Regions from separate parts of the Homo sapiens genome. Here region 1 is linked to region 2. The links come from fine-mapping of genetic effects on gene expression. Tissue or cell type: Th17 cells. Region 2 holds a variant in brackets; the other region holds the start of a gene. All regions are shown on one strand. Distances are from middle to middle. Region 1 holds the start of CWF19L1 (CWF19 like cell cycle control factor 1). Region 2 overlaps CHUK (component of inhibitor of nuclear factor kappa B kinase complex).

Evidence for each region. PIP is the estimated chance that this variant, and not a neighbour inherited with it, causes the effect.
Region 1: it holds the start of CWF19L1, and the variant in region 2 is fine-mapped to the expression of CWF19L1 in Th17 cells (Schmiedel 2018, PIP 0.95).

Annotation. Positions count from the first base shown.
Region 1 is chr10:100,263,496-100,271,836 of GRCh38, reverse strand. It overlaps CWF19L1 (CWF19 like cell cycle control factor 1), which reads left to right and starts at 4,199. Exons shown (of 14, transcript NM_018294.6): 1 at 4,199-4,266. The coding sequence starts at 4,244. RefSeq lists an enhancer at 6,219-6,468.
Region 2 is chr10:100,208,638-100,216,978 of GRCh38, reverse strand. CHUK (component of inhibitor of nuclear factor kappa B kinase complex) reads left to right here. Exons shown (of 21, transcript NM_001278.5): 10 at 7,190-7,384. Among named protein-coding and RNA genes, the nearest start is that of CHUK, 17 kb to the left of the region's middle. The variant TG/G (reference allele first, on the strand shown) is at 3,978.

The DNA of each region.
Region 1 (8,341 bases), 55 kb before region 2:
TGTTTCCTTTGCTGTGCAGAGCTTTTTAGTTTGATATAATCCTATTAGTCTATTTTTGCTTTTGTTGCCTGTGCTTTTGAAGTCTTATACAAAAAATTTTTGCCCAGATCAATATCTTGGAACATTTCTCCAGTATTTTCTTCTGGTAGCTTCATAGTTTCATGTGTTAGGTTTAAGTCTTTATCCATTTTGATGCGATTTTTGTATATGGTGAGAGATAGAGTTGAGTTTCATTCTTCAGTATAGGGCTATCCAGTTCTCCAAGAATCATTTATTGAAGAGACTGTCCTTTCCTCATTGAATGTTCTTGGCACCTTTGTACTTTTGGTATTGACATAAAATGAGTTGGCTGTAAATGCATGGATTTATATATGTTCCATTGGTCTATGTGTCTATTTTTATGTCAGTACCATACTGATTGGGTTACCATAGCTTTGTAGTAGATTTTGAGGTTGGGCAGTATGATGCCTTCAGCTTTGTGCTTTTTGCTCAGGATTGCTTTGGCTCTTTGGGGTCTTTTGTGGTTCCATATAGATTTTAGGATTGTTTTTTCTATTTCTATTTCTGTAGAGCAGCAGTCCCTAATCTTTTTGGCACCAGGGACCGCTTTTATGGAAGACAATTTTTCCGTGGACGCGGGGGGATTTTTTTTTTTAATGGTATGAACCATATTTATTGAAAACATTATTTCTGGCCTTTCTCAAATTGAAGACTGCAAAAAATAAAAGCAGTGCTTTATTGAGTTGTCATTAACCTTGAGAGCAGTGGCGCTGCCTCTCCACGCTCTGGGGACGGTGGAAACCGTGGCTGGTGCGTGCCACATCTATCACACCTCGGTCTACAAAACAGTCCTGACGTCAAATAAAACTATTGTGGCCGGGCGCGGTGGCTCACGTCTGTAATCCCAGCACTTTGGGATGCCGAGGCGGGCGGATCACGAGGTCAAGGAAATCGAGACCATCCTGGCTAACACGGTGAAAACTCGTCTCTACTAAAAATACAAAAACAAAATTAGCCAGGCATGGTGGCGGGTGCCTGTAGTCCCAGCTACTCTGGAGGCTGAGGCAGGAGAATGGCGTGAACCCGGGAGGCGGAGCTTGCAGTGAGCGTAGATCGCGCCACTGCACTGCAGCCTGGGCGACAGAGCGAGACTCAGTCTCAAACAAAAACAAAAACAAAACAAAACAAAACAAAAAAAACAAACGCTCGTACATGACATTTACATTAGAAAAAGAGAGCTGAAAGTAGGGATGGGGGGATGGTTTGGGGATGAAACTGTTCCACCTCAGATCATCAGGCATCAGATTCTTGTAAGGTACGCAGCGCCGTAGAACCCTCGCATGTGCAGTTCACAATAGGGTTCCAGCCTCTGTAAGAATCTGATGCCACCACTAATCTGATAGGAAGTGAGCTCAGGCGGTTATTCTCACTTGCCCACCGCTCGCCTCCTGCTGTGCGTCCTGGTTTCTGATGGGTACTGGTCCATAGCCCGGGGGTTGGGGATCCTTGCTCTATCTAGAGAATGCCATTTGTATTTTGATGGGGATTGGACTGAATCTGTAAATTGCTTTAGGTAGTGTTGTCTTTTTTCTTTCTTTCTTTTTTTTTTTTTTGAGACGGAGTCTCGCTCTGTTGCCCAGGCTAGAGGCTGGAGTGCAGTGGCTGGATCTCCGCTCACTGCAAGCTCTGCCTCGCGGGTTCATGCCATTCTGCTGCCTCAGCCTTCCGAGTACCTGGGACTACAGGCGCCCGCTACCACGCCTGGCTAATTTTTTTGTATTTTTAGGAGAGACGGGGTTTCACCGTGTTAGCCAGGAAGGTCTCGATCTCCTGACCTCGTGATCTGCCCGCCTAATTCTTCTAATCCATAAGCGTGGAATATCTTTCCTTTTTGTGTGTGTGTCCTCTTTCATCAGTATTGTATAGTTTTCCTTGTATAGATCTTTCATTTCTTTAGTTAAATTGATTCCTACGTAGTTTATATTCTTTGTAGCTGTTGTAAATGAGATTGCTTTTTTGATTTCTTTTTCAGATTGTTTACTGTTGGTGCATATAAATGCTACTGATTTTTGTATGTTGATTTGGTATCCTGAAACTTTTACTGAATTCGTTTATTATTTCTAACAGTCTTTTTCGTGGAGTCTTTTGATTTTTCAATACGATGAGTTTTTATGTCTTACTTTTGTATCCTCTTCTGGGAATTATTACCTGCTCATGTTTGGCAAACTTCTACTCTTCTTCAAGATTCAGTCTTGAGTGCTACTCCTGGGCAGTGCTGTATTATCCAAAGAGTAGGAAAAAATGCATGCTTATGTGCCAGCAAAGCAGAGCCACCAGTTATGAGGCAAGAAACAAACAAAAAAGAAGGCTTGTAGGCTGTGGGAAAAGCCAGAACTTTGTAGTTTTGTTTGGTTATTGAGACAGGGCTTGCTGTGTCACCCAGGCTGGAGTGCAGTGGCAAGGTAATAGCTCGCTGAAGCCTCCATCTCCTGGGCTCAAGTGATCTCCCCACCTCAGCCTCTGGAGTACCTGGGAGTACAGGCATACGGCCACCATGCCCAGCTAACTTTTTTTTTTTTCTTTTTAAATTTGTAGTAGAGACGAGGTCTGGCTATGTTGCCCAGGTTGGCCTTGAACTCCTGTTCTCAAGTGAACCTCCCGCCTCAGCCTCCCAAAGTGCTGGGATTACAGGCATGAGCCACTGTGCCTGGCCTGTAGTTCTTCTTTAATCTTATGTTTTATTAATTTTGAATTATTTAGATGCCCTTGATGAGTCTTCCTTTCCCCGCAGTCGTCAGGAACTCTCTCTTGTTTCCATTTCCTTACACACTTGTTTCCTACCACTTGGCCTGAACCCTTCAAAAAAGTCAATATTACAAAAACTAAAACCAAATAGGTAGGAGGGCTTTTGTAGATTAAAATAGAGACAGAACCAAATGCAAGTGTGAAACTTGATTGCATCTGAATCAAAACAAGCCCCAAATATAAAATCAGTTTGTAGGGAAATATGGAGAACTTTAAATATGGATGTATATTAGGTAATATTATTGAATAATTAATGTTAATTTTCTTAGCTGTGTTAATAGTATTACGGTTATGTAGGAGGATATCCTAATCTTAGGAGATAAATGGAGATGTATTCCTGTTGTCCGCACTTTATTTTATTTTATTTTTTGACACGGAGTCTCGCTCTGTCGCCCAGGCTGGAGTGAAGTGGCGCGATCTCGGCTCACTGCAACTTCCTCCTCCTGGGTTCAAGCGATTCCCCTGCCTCAGCCTCCCGAGTAACTGGGACTGCAGGTGCGTGCCACCACGCCCGGCTAATTTTTTGTATTTTTAGTAGAGAGGGGGTTTCACCGTGTTAGCCAGGATGGTCTGGATCTCCCAAAGTGCTGGGATTACAGGCGTGAGCCACTGCGCCCGGCCTGTACTTTACTTTCAAATGATTGAGTGAGAATGGAAGGGCTTGGGCACTTTGAGAGAAAGAGAACACAAGCAAATTTGCCAACATGCTGAGACTTACTGAATCAAGGTAATAGCCATTATTCTTTTAACTTTTTTTTTTTTAATTTGAGACGGAGTTTCGCTCTTGTTGTCCAGGCTGGAGTGCAATGGCGCGATCTTGACTCACTGCAACCCCCGCCTCCCTGGTTGAAGCAATTCTCCACCATGCCCGGCTAATTTTTGTATTTTTAGAAGAGACGGGGTTTCACCATGTTGCCCAGGCTGGTCTTGAACGCCCGACCTCAAGTGATCCGCCCGCCTCAGCCTTCCAAAGTGCTGGGATTATAGGCGTGAGCGTCCACGCCCGGCCTCTTAACTTTTTGATAGGTTAAAAACTTACAAAAAACGTGGATAGAGGGGGTCTGTCTTGCCCACTAGACCGATATGGTTAGGTTAGGTTAGGTTAGGTTAGGTTAGGTTAGAACCCGACATTGTGCTCTGTACTTCCTAGCCATTCATTCGCTTCAAGTGCTCTGAAATTTAATTTAAAAAATCATAGTTGGAATCCTTTCGGTCACTTTCTCTTTCTCCCTTCGTTCCTCCCTTTCCCTCTTGATTCTTCCTTGAGGCGCAAACACCTGAGAGAGGCTTCTGTCCCTCGGCGGTCTCCGTAAGTAAGTGAACCGTTATTGGCTGGAGGGCGCTGACGTCTGATTGTTGCGCGGTCGCATTTTTCCGGGGAGCGCGGATTCGCATTCCCAATTTTAGGTGGCAGTCGCAACCCATACTATTCGGACAGATGGCACAGAAACCGCTGCGCCTGTGAGTGACCGTGAATGGAAGCCTCTCTCCCTGTGTCTCTTTCGTGTGTGTAGGTGACGACACGGGCGGGAGTCTTTCCCATGACGGGAAGGGAGAAGGAAAAGGCGGAGAGACACGGGGCTGCTGGGGAGCTTAGGTGATGTCTTTGCCTGGCCGGGGCTGACCTCTTTTCCTGGCCCTTTTCGCTTCTGAGGGGGTTTCTCTTGGCGACGCTCGTTCGGAGAGGCGGAAGCTCCCAGAGTTAGGCCTCCTCCATCTTAGGGGGCAGTCCTGGCCTCTGACACATCCTTTCCCCTTCGTTTCTCCTGACCCCATTTATTTACTCGCCAAATAGCCATTGGGCCCACTGATGGGCCCTGGGCAGTGGTGGACAGAGTAGATAGGGACCCTTCCCTGGGGCATTTTTTTTTTTTTTTTTTTTTTGCGAGGAGGAGGGGTGGGGGTGGTGGTGAAGAGAGGGCTTCATGCAGCAAGTATTTATTGAAGAACTGCAGTGTGCCGGACGCTGTGCTAGGTGTTGCAACAGATGGAGTTCCTGCTTTAATGGAGCGTAGAGTCTAGAGGAACAGGTACTAAAGAATCCAGATAATGGGCCGGGCGCGGTGGCTGAGGCAGGAGAATCGCTTGAACCCGGGAGGCGGAGGTTGCTGTGAGCCGAGATCGCGCCACTGCACTCCAGCCTGGGCGACAGAACGAGACTCTCAAAACAAAACAAAACAAAACAAAACAAACAAAAAACAATACAAATAATGGCCGGGCGCGGTGGCTCACGCCTGTAATCCTAGCACTTTGGGAGGCTGAGGCGGGCGGATCACTTGCGGTCAGGAGTTCGAGACCAGCCTGGCCAACGTGGTGACACCCCGTCTCTACTAATACAAAAAAAAAAAATTAGCCAGGCGTGGTGGCGCGTGCCTGTAATCCCAGCTACTTGGGAGGCTGAGGCAGGAGAATCGCTTGAACCCGGAGGCGGAGGTTGCACAGTGAGCCGACACTGCACCTCTGCACTCCAGCCTAGGTAACAGAGTGAGACTCCGTCTAAAAAAAAAGGAATTCAGATAAATGTAAAGTTACCATAGTGATAGGGCCAGGCGCAGTGGCTCACGCCTATAATCCCAGCGACTCCGGAGGCCAAGGCAAGAGAATCACTTGAGTCCAGGAATTCAAGACCAGCCTGGGCAATATAGCAAGGCCCCGTTTCTACAAAAAATACAGAAAAAAAAAAAAATTAGCCGGGCGTGGTGGTCCCAGCTAATTGGGAGGCTGAAGCAGGTGGACCACCTGAGCCTGGGGAGGTCGATGCTGCAGTGAGCTGTGATCGTGCTGCTGATCTCCAGGCTGGGTGACAGATTGAAACCCTGTCTCAAAAAAAAAAAAAAAAAAATTGCAATAGTGGTAACTTTTGGGAAGAAAATATTCGTGAATCTGGGAGAGTGCATAAGAGGGGTATTTGGCTTAATGATAGGAGTCAAGAAGGCTTCCCGAGAATGTTAGGATTGAGCCTTGGGAAATAAGAGTAATCCATTGCTTAACAGCAGGGTTATGTTCTGAGAAATGAGTTGGTAGGCGATTTCGTCATTGTGCGAACATCTTTGAGTGTACTTCCAGAGACCTAGATGGTATGGCTTCCTGTACACCTAGGCTAAATGGTATAGCTGTACGTCAAGTTACTGTACTGAATACTGTAGGCAATTGTAACACAATGGTAAGCATTTTTGTATTTAAATATAGAAAGGGTACAGTGAAAACACCTGGCCGGGTGTGGTGGCTTATGCCTGTAATCCCAACACTTTGGGAGGCCGAGGTGGGTGGATCACCTGAGGTCAGAAGTTCAAGACCAGCCTGGCCAACATGGTGAAACCCTGTGTCTACTAAACATACAAAAATTAGCCGGGTGTGGTAGCGGGCGCCTGTAATCCCAGCTACTCAAGAGGTTGAGGCAGGAGAATGGCTTGAGCCTGGGAGGCAGAGGTTGCAGTGAGCCGAGATCGCACCACTGCACTCCAGCCTGGGCGACAGAGCGAGACTGTCTCAAAAAAAAAAAAAAAGAAAAAGAAAAAAAGAAAATACTGTATACAGGAAAAAAAAAAAGGGCACAACCTGTGTAGGACACTTATCATGAATGGAGTTTGCAGAACTGAAAGTTTCTCTGAGTGAGTTAGTAAGAGGTGAGTGAATGTATTACTTTACAGTATTGTAGACTTTATGAATACTGTACACTTCACCTATATTAAATTTATTAAAATATTATTTTCAACAGTAAACCTTAGTTTACTGTAACTTTTACTTTATAAACTTTAAGTTTTTTTACACTTTTTGACTCTTGTTATAACACAGCTAAGACATAAAACACATTGTACAGCTGTACAAAAATATTTTCTTTATATCCTTATTCTACAAGCTTTTTTCTATTACTTTTTTTTTCTTTTTACCTTTTAAACTTTTTTTTTTTTTGGAGACAGGGTCTCACTGTCGCCCAGGCTGGAGTGCAATTGTGCAATCACGGCTCACTGCAACCTCAACCTCCTGGGCTCAAGTGATTCTCCCACTTCAGCCTCCTGAGTAGCTGGGACTACAGGCGGAAGCTACCACACCTGGCTAATTTCTGTATTTTTTGTAGAGAGGGGGTTTTGCTATGTTACCCAGGCTGGTCTTGAACTCCTGGGCTCAAGTTACCCTCCTGCCTCAGCCTCCCAAAGTGCTGGGATTACAGACGTGAGCCACTGTGCCTGGCTTTAAACTTGTTTTGTTGCAAACTAAGACACACACACGAGTCTAGGCCTACACAGGGTCAGGATCATCAGTATCACTGCTGTTCACCTCCATATCTTGTCCCACTGGAAGGGCTTCAGTAGTAATAACATGCATGAAGCTGTCATCTCCTATGATAACAGTGCCCTCTGGAATACTTCCTGAAGGACCTGCCTGAGGCTTTTTTACAGTCAACTTTTTTTTTTTTTTTTTGAATACGTAGGAGTGTACTCTAAACAGTAAAGAGCATACCATACTGAATATATTTTTTTTTTTTTGAGATGGAGTCTTGCTCTGTTGCCCAGGCTGGAGTGCAGTGCCGCGATCTCAGCTCACTGCAAGCTCTGCCTCGTGGGTTCATGCTATTCTCCCGCCTCAGCCTCCTGAGTAGCTGGGACTACAGGCGCCCGCCACCACGCCCGGCTAATTTTTTGTATTTTTAGTAGAGATGAGGTTTCACTGTGTTAACCAGGATGGTCTCGAGCTCCTGACCTTGTGATCCGCTCGCCTTGGCCTCCCAAAGTGCTGGGATTACAGGCGTAAGCCACCGCACCTGGCCATAGCATGCTAAATATTATACATAAACCAGTAACATAGTTGTTTATTATCATTATCAAATATTGTATACTGTACATAACTGTATGTGCTACACTTTTTATAACCACCAGCCCAGTAGGTTTATACCAGCATTACCACAAACAAATGAGTAATATATTGCACTATGATGTTACAAATGGCTAGACATCACTAGGCGATAGGAATTTTTTAGTTCCATTATAATCTTATGGGACCACCATTACATATGTGGTCCCTTGTTGACCGAAACATTGTTATGTGGCACGTAACTGTATTCTTGTCTTTAACCTAAAAAGGTTATTGAAATGCTTAAGAACGCTTTGGCATGATCAAATTTTCATTTTGGAAAGCAGTTCTGTCTGCAATGTGGAGAACAAATCAGAGCCAAAGTAGAGAACAGCTGGGATTAGGTAGAGTGATGACAGAGGAATAGTTTAGGGATTCAGGGTTTATTAAGGAAGTAAAATCAACAAGGCTTGTGATGGTTTAATTGTGAGTGAAAAGGAGCTGGCCTTGTTGGGTCATAGATTTCTATCTTTATTCAGTGGGATAGAGAACAGTGGAAAAGGGCCCAGATGAGGAGATGAGGCACCTGGTGATGTATAAACTGGACAGTGGATCTCCCAGAGACAATGGTAATTCCGTGTGACAACTGCTGTGATGGAAGAAATGCAGGCTCCTATGGGAACACTAGAAATTGGTAACTGATAGGTACTAGAAGGCTTCCTAGAGGAGGTGGTGCTCAAAATAT
Region 2 (8,341 bases):
ATATTCTCTTTCTCGTCTTCCATTCATGCATCTTCATATAGACTGTTGTCTTCTTCAATGTTGGGATTGTTTTACTTCTTTTATTAACAATCACCCACCCTACCCTTCCTAACCATGGCATTCTGTACAGAGCAGGGCATGTATCAGGTTCTTAGTAAATTATTTATTGATATGAATGAGAGCTATAGATAGTTCTATTATGCAGTGTACCCAGAAACAACTCTCATCAATAGTCTTTACATTTGTATTGATTGTTTGTAGTATACAGGTTTCTAAAATTGAAATGAGAAATTATAATCATGTAATGTTGGAGTACATGGCGAGATAGCTCACTTTAGTCTGCAACCCCTGAGCTCAAGTGATTCTCCTGCTTCAGCCTCCAGAGTAAATGGGACTACAGGTGTGCGCCACCTCTCCTGCCTAATTTTTAAATTTTTGGTAGAAATGGGGTCTCACTGTGTTGAGCAGGTTGGTTTTGAACTCCTGGCCTCAAGTAATCCTCCTACCTCGACTTCCCAAAGTGCTGAGATTACAGATGTGGGCTACTGTGCCCGACCTTGGCATACTTTATTAAATAGAAACTTGAGGCCATGTGGATGTCATTCTTGGCTAACACTGAAAAGATACCTGGCTTCTTCTTGATTTGGTTTCCTTCTAATGTGCCAAAGAATAAATTATCCCTCAGTGTGTTAGGAAAGCAGGGCTTTAGTTCTGTGTTGCCTCTGAAACATTTCAGCTGTGAATGAACCACATCTCGCATTTGTTTCATACTTGTCATAGGAATCATAGCATAGTTTCTGCTCTGAAGGGCATCTGTGAGCCTCTTGTTATAGGGCACGGGGAAAGAGTCCACATTATGGAGTTTATAGTTTACAGACTTTAATTCAGTTTGCAGCACCACTATTTACCTATCTGTGAACCTGAGCAAATGTCTCTCTATCTCAAGGACAGTAATATCTTCCTCAAAGCATCAATATTATTATGAGGTTATGCAGAATAAGGTATGTATAAGGTACTAGTTATAGTAGTTCAAGAAGCTTCAAGGATGCTTGTTAGACATGATAATAGGACTGAATTTTGAAGAATGAGAGTTTTTAGGGAAAGGGTGAGGGCGGGAGAGATTTATAGGCAGCAGAGCATCATGAGCAAAAGTACAGAAGCATGAACTGCAAAACAGCTTGGTGTTACTGTAGGACATTTTCCCAAAATGTTTATATATATTGTACAAGAAAGGAATGATGTCTGTTTGATTTTCACTTAAAAAAGGAAGCAACAAAACAGTTACTGAAATATTTCCCTTTTGAAAAAATAGCTTAGCAAGTCTGATTGTATGCATATTTTCCAACTGTTTATTATGAACATCTTTAGATATGTAGAAGAGTTGAAAGAAGTGTACTGAACCTACCACTAAAAATAATGATGAAACAGTAGCATTTAATTATTATTTTTTTTTGCCTCCTCTTTCACGCCCCTAAATGTAACTATATTCTGAGTCTCTTCTTGGTTCTCTCTTTTTCCATTACATTTCCTTTCTTTTATTAGGCAGCCTCTTCAACTGTATAGCTTTACTTATAAACTACATATGGCTAACTCCTAAAGTTATTTATCTCTGTAGCTGTGACTCTTCTGCCAAGGACTTATAACTGCTGTATAACTGTATAACTACCTGGCTGTTCCACTGGCACTTACAACTTAATTTATTAAAAACTGAACATATTTGTTCTATCCATTAAATCTACTTCTTTTTTTTTTTTTTTTTTTTTTGATATGGAGCCTCACTCTGTCTCACGATCTCAACTCACTGCAACCTACACCTCCTGGGTTCAAGTGATTCTCGTGCCTCAGCCTCCCGAGTAGCTGGGATTACAGGTGCCTGCCACCGTGTCCAGCTAATTTTTATATTTTTGGTAGAAATGGGGTTTCACCATGTTGGCCAGGCTGGTCTTGACACCCTGACCTCAGGTGATCTGCTCACCTCGGCCTTCCAAAGTGCTGGGATTACAGGCATGAGCCACTGCACCTGGCCCATTAAATCTACCTCTATAGATTTCCTACACTTCTTATTTGCACTGTCACCTTTCCAGTTACCCAGGTGGGAAACTTTGGATGTGTTGACTCTTCCTTTCTCTTCAATCGATATATCCAATTATTTTATCAAATTTATCTTTTGAATATCTTAACAATTTTGAGCTTGCCAGGTTCTCAATTTAGAAAGGCTTGCATAGTTTTCTTTCACTTATTGAATAAAGTCCAGACCCTTTCATTGGTACTCAAAACCTATCTTGGTTTCATATCAACTTACACTCCTGGACTTATCTCTTACTAATGCCCTGAGAGGCCATCATTTTAGGTACATTTGAACTGGATTAATTGTATTCTCTGATTATGCCCATCCCTTTCTACTTTTCTGCTTCTGCTCACCTTGTTTTCTGCCTAAAGGAACTCTTTTCAGTCTTTTCCCATTTCAGTCTTTCATTTCAAAGTTTAGCTCAAGTAGTGCCTCCTTTATGAAGTGCCTGCTTCCTACTGCCAAGTGTATGATACTTTACACTGATTATAACACCTATCACATTTTGCCTGGTACCTTAGTTCTCTTAGTATATCTTAATATCTTCTGTTTGACTATAACTGTATGGAAGGCAAGGATCATAAGGTACTCAGTTTGTATACCCACTACTACCACCACAACACACTTAATAGTATGTACCAATAGTATGTACCTACCAATAGTAGGTACTCATTAAATATTATAGTGAGCAAAAAGATAAATTTAGGTTGTATTTCCTCTTCTTTCTTTTGCTTCCTTCTGGCCTGGAGCTTTGGTAGTGAGATGCCATGATGACATACTCTAATATCCTGTGTAAAAGTAGATGTCCATTATAGGATTTTCTATTGCTATAAGTGGCAGCTGTCATAGTGTGAAATCTGCCTAAATTGGGAAGGCATGGAAAGTCTCAGGTAGTATAATTGTATTGCAAATCCGTATCAGTTTTGAAGATTTCCCTACTCCCCTTTTAAACATAAAGATTTATATTAAAGAAAAGTCTCTTAATAAGAGAAATACTGGCAATTGTGTTATGACATTTGGAATTCACATGAAAAGGATCAGCTTCAGGTTATAAAAACAGTTTGGTATTTCTTTTTTAAAATTTTGTTGATACAGGTGTGGTGGCTCATGCCTGTAATCCCAGCACTTTGGGAGGTGGAGGCAGGCAGATCACTTGAGGTCTGGAGTTCGAGACCAGCCTGGCCAACATGGTGAAACCCCATCTCTACTAAGAATACAAAAATTAGCCAGGGATGGTGGTGCATGCCTGTAGTCCCAGCTACACGGGAGGCTGAGGCAGAAGAGTTGCTTGAACCTGGGAGGTGGAGGCTGCATTGAACCAAGATCGCACCACTGCACTCCAGCCTGGGTGACAGAGAGAGACTCTGTCTCAAAAACAAACAAACAAAATTGTTAATACGCTTTTAATTTTTTTTTTTTTTTTTGAGATAAGAGTCTTGTTCTATCACCCAGGCTAGAGTACCATGGTGCAATCTCCACTCACTGCAACTTTCACCTCCCAGACTCAAGTGATTCTCTCGTGCCTCAGCCTCCCGCGTAGTTGGAATTACAGGTGTGCGCCATCATGGCCAACTAATTTTTTGTGTGTTTTTAGTAGAGACAGGGTTTTGCCATGTTGGCCAGGATGTTCTCAAACTCCTGTCCTCAAGTGATCTACCTGTCTTGGCCTCCCAAAGGGCTGGGATTACAGGTGTGAGCCACCGCGCCCAGCCTAATTTTTTAAATTGACAAATAATTATACAAATTAATGGGGTAAATAGTGATGTTTCAATACATGCACTGTGTAGTGATCAGATTAGGGTAATTAGCATATCCATCAGCTAAAACATAATTTCTCTGTGTTGGGAATATTCAGTATCCCTTTCTTTTTTCTTTTTTTTTCTTTTTCTTCTTTCTTTTTTTTTTTTTT[TG/G]AGACAAAGTCTCACTCTGTCGCCTGGAGTGCAGTGGCGCGATCTTGGCTCACTGCAGCCTTGATCTCCCAGGTTCAGGCGATTCTCCTGCCTCAGCCTTCTGAGTAGCTGGGATTATAGGCGTTGTGCCACCAAGCCCAGCTAATTTTTGTGTTTTTAGTAGAGACAAGGTTTCACCATGTTGGCCAGGCTGGTCTTGAACTCCTGACCTTAAGTGATCTACTTGTCTTGTAATCCCAAAGTGCTGGGATTACAGGCGTGAGCCACCACGCCCAGCCTCAGTTTAGTATTTCTGTAGCACCACTTATTTGGGCATCTGTGTTAGGATTTGTAAGTGGAAATAATAGTGGGCCTTCAAACTAAAAAGTGTACAGTAGAAAAAATAATCAACAAAACGAAAAAGCAACCCAACCCATGGATTGGGAAAAGATATTTGCATACCATACATCCAATAAGAAATTAATATCCTAAATTTATAAGAAACTCATGCAACTCAATACCAAAAATGTAAATAACCCAATTTAAAAATGTGCAAAGGACCTGAATTAGACACTTCTCAAAAGAAGAAATTCAGATGGTCAACAAACATATGAAAAGGTGCTCAACAACTCTTAGCATCAGGGCGATGCAAATCAAAACCACACTAAGATATCACCCCCCACCTGTTGGGATGGCTATTATCCAAAAGAAAAAAGATAAGCGTTAGTGAGGATGTGGGAGAAAAGAAATCCCTTGTACACTGTTGGTGGGAATGTAAATTATTACAGCTATTGTGGGAAACAGTACAAAGGTTCCTCAAAATTAAAAATAGAACTACTGGCCGGGCATGGTGGCTCATGCCTGTAATCCCAGCACTTTGGGAGGTTGAGACAGGTGGATCACATGAGGCCAGGAGTTCGAGACCAGACTGGGCAACATGCAGAAACCCCATCTCAACTAAAATTACAAAAATTAGCTGGGCATGGTGGTGCACATCTGTAATCCCAGCTACTCCGTAGGCTGAGGCAGGATAATTGCTTGAATTCAGGAGGTGGAAGTTGTAGTGAGCTGAGAGATCATGCCACTGCACATCAGCCTGCGTGACACAGCAAGACTCTGTCTCAAAAGAAAAAAAAAAAAAATAGAACTGTAAGATTCAACAATGTCATTTCTTGGTATATATCCAAAGGATTTTAAAGCAGGCTTGTGAAGAGATATTTGCACTCCCATGTTCATTGCAGCATTATTCACAATAGTCAAGATCTGGAAATAGCCTAAATGTCCTTTGACAGATGAATGGATAGGGAAAAAGTGGTATATATACACAGTGGAATAGTATTCAACCTTAAGAAAAAGAAGGAAATTCTGCCATTTAGGACAATGTGGATGAACCTGGAGGACATGTTAAGTAAAATAAGCAAGTCACAGAAAGAGAAATACTGCGTGATCTCACTTACATGTGGAATCTATAATAGTTAAATTTAATAGAAGCAGACCATAGCATCATAGTTGCCAGGGGCTGCAGGGATGCGGGTGCGGGGGTGTATGTAGAGATGTTTATCAAAAGGTCCAAAAATTACGGCAGCAAAAGAAAAAAAAGGTACAAAAATGACAACTATGAAGAGGTGACAGATATATTAATTAGCTGAAATGTGATAATTTCACAACGTATATCAAAACATCAAGTTGTATAACTCAAATATATAACATTTTTATATGTCAAATTAAATTGTCACAAAATAAAATATGTAAAAGATAAAGCAATAAATCAGGAGAGGGGGTTATGATAGATGAAACAAGATAGGCTCTATGTAAATGATGGTTGAAACTAGGTGAGGCATTCACAGGGTTGGGAGGGGGCTTATTGTACTGTTGTCTATAGTTTTGTGTCTTTGAAAACATCAATTCAGATTTGTGTTTTAAAGGGAAAAAAATAATAGTGGACTTGGATTAATGCCTTACCTTTGTAGTAAGGATTTTCAGCAGAGAGAATTTTAATCATTTGCATATACTAGTCAATGTAAGGCATGGAGAATGTAGGCATTAATTTCGTATGGCTTTTCTAAGGATACTGGAAGGAAGAGAATTTAAAATCATGTTCTTTTCAAAAGACTGAAGTCCAACTCTGTGGCTGTCCGCGCTGACAGGTGGGGACAGAGCCCCACCTGACTCAGCCTCACACTCACTTGGCATGTATCAGGCTACTTTTACTGGGGCTTTAGGTGAGAGTGATAAAACGGTTCTTACTTGATTTGGGGCCCTTAAGCAGGTTGCTGCTCTGGGATTAGGTTGTCTTATAAAAAGGTAACTCACCACGCATAACAATGCTTTTTCCTGTTTAAAGAGAGACCTAGTTCTTCTATCAGATGATTTCTTAAGGCAGCATGAAGTAGCCAGACACAAAAAGAGTTAAGATCCAAGCTCTACCAGTTATTAGCTGTGTGATCCCTAACAAGTTATTTAACTTAGAACTCTGGTTTCTTTCTCTGTTTAAAATGGAGATTAAAAGATCTAATTATTGGGGATGTTATGTGAAAGTGGTTTATGCCTGTGGTTGTCTTCTGTTAGGCACTTCATGAATTGGAATGTTTCCTTTTCGGTCTATGATAATGTTTTTTTCAAAATAAATAACTTAGGCCGGGCGCGGTGGCTCACGCCTGTAATCCCAGCACTTTGGGAGGCCGAGGCGGGCGGATCACGAGGTCAGGAGATCGAGACCATCCCGGCTAAAACGGTGAAACCCCGTCTCTACTAAAAATACAAAAAATTAGCCGGGCGTAGTGGCGGGCGCCTGTAGTCCCAGCTACTTGGGAGGCTGAGGCAGGAGAATGGCGTGAACCCGGGAGGCGGAGCTTGCAGTGAGCCGAGATCCCGCCACTGCACTCCAGCCTGGGCGACAGAGCGAGACTCCGTCTCAAAAAAAAAAAAAATAAATAAATAAATAAATAAATAAATAACTTGTTCTTTCAAATTGGGATTTTTCTTAATTTTGAAAATTTCTTAACTTTGAAATTTTATTGTTGGAACTAACATCTATTGTAGAAAAGGAAATTGTTCAGTTTTCAGAATGTCATTTTATAATTATAAAAGGAGATCTCACTTTGGAGAATGAGTGAGCCTTGTTTAATGTAGAAATAATGCCTTTTGCCCATATTCACCTTTTAGTATCTGGCAGCGAATCTTTTATGTAACAAATAATCAATAACTTTACCTTTTTTTCTTATTTATACAGATAGTACACATCCTAAATATGACTTCTGCAAAGATAATTTCTTTTCTGTTACCACCTGATGAAAGTCTTCATTCACTACAGTCTCGTATTGAGCGTGAAACTGGAATAAATACTGGTTCTCAAGAACTTCTTTCAGAGACAGGAATTTCTCTGGATCCTCGGAAACCAGCCTCTCAATGTGTTCTAGATGGAGTTGTAAGAAAATTAATTATAATATCCCTAGAGTATGTGAAATCTAGAGGGATTGCGTGCCCTGCAATTTTTATGCATACTTGGAATTCCTTGGGAGGCCGCACATTTTGTTTTGGTTTTGTCCTTCTCCCAACTCTTATCATTGCTTTGCAAGGTGAACAGGATAGAAATGAAACATTTGTTGTTTTGAACTTTGCAAGACTTTTTCTTTGGTGCCAGTTTTCTGCTCCTGTTCCCAGACCAAACTGAGGGTCAGGCTGCTTACTCTCGCGGCCCAATAACGAGATGCAGATGAATTGGGAGAGATGGGAGTTTTTATTTCTGTAACCAGTTACAGGTAGAAGGCCTGGAAATTACCGCCAGACCAACTCAAAATTACAAAGTTTTTCCGTAGTTTATTTATCTTCTAAGCTATATGTCTATGTGTAAGTTTGCATTCATCTAAAGACATAAGTGATTAACTTCTTTTAATCTGTAGCTGAGGTCTGAGTCTTGAAGACATTCCTCTGGAGCCTCAGTAAATTTACTTACTCTAAATGGGTCCAGGTGCTGGGGTGATTACCCTTATCTTGTCTCCTATTAAATCACAGAGGTTTAAGGAGTTCCTTCAGACCCCCAATAAACTTGTTTGTGGAGGCCTGGGGTTTCTTCAGACCCCCAATAAAACTTATTTAATTCTGAACGGGTCCTGTTAAGAATTCCTTTGTTATTTTGCTTTTAGGCCTGGGAAAGGCCTGGGCAGAACTCTTGGTAGGCTTTGGCTACATTTCAGCCTTTGTGTAAGGGCACTGGCTCTTCCAGTTTTTTTTTTTTTTAGACAGTCTTGCTCTGTTGCCCAGGCTGAAGTGCAATGGCACAATCTCAGCTCACTGCAACCTCCGCCTCCTGGGTTCAAGTGATTCTCCCTGCCACAGCCTCCCAAGTAGCTGGGATTATAGGTGCCCACCACCATGCCTAGCT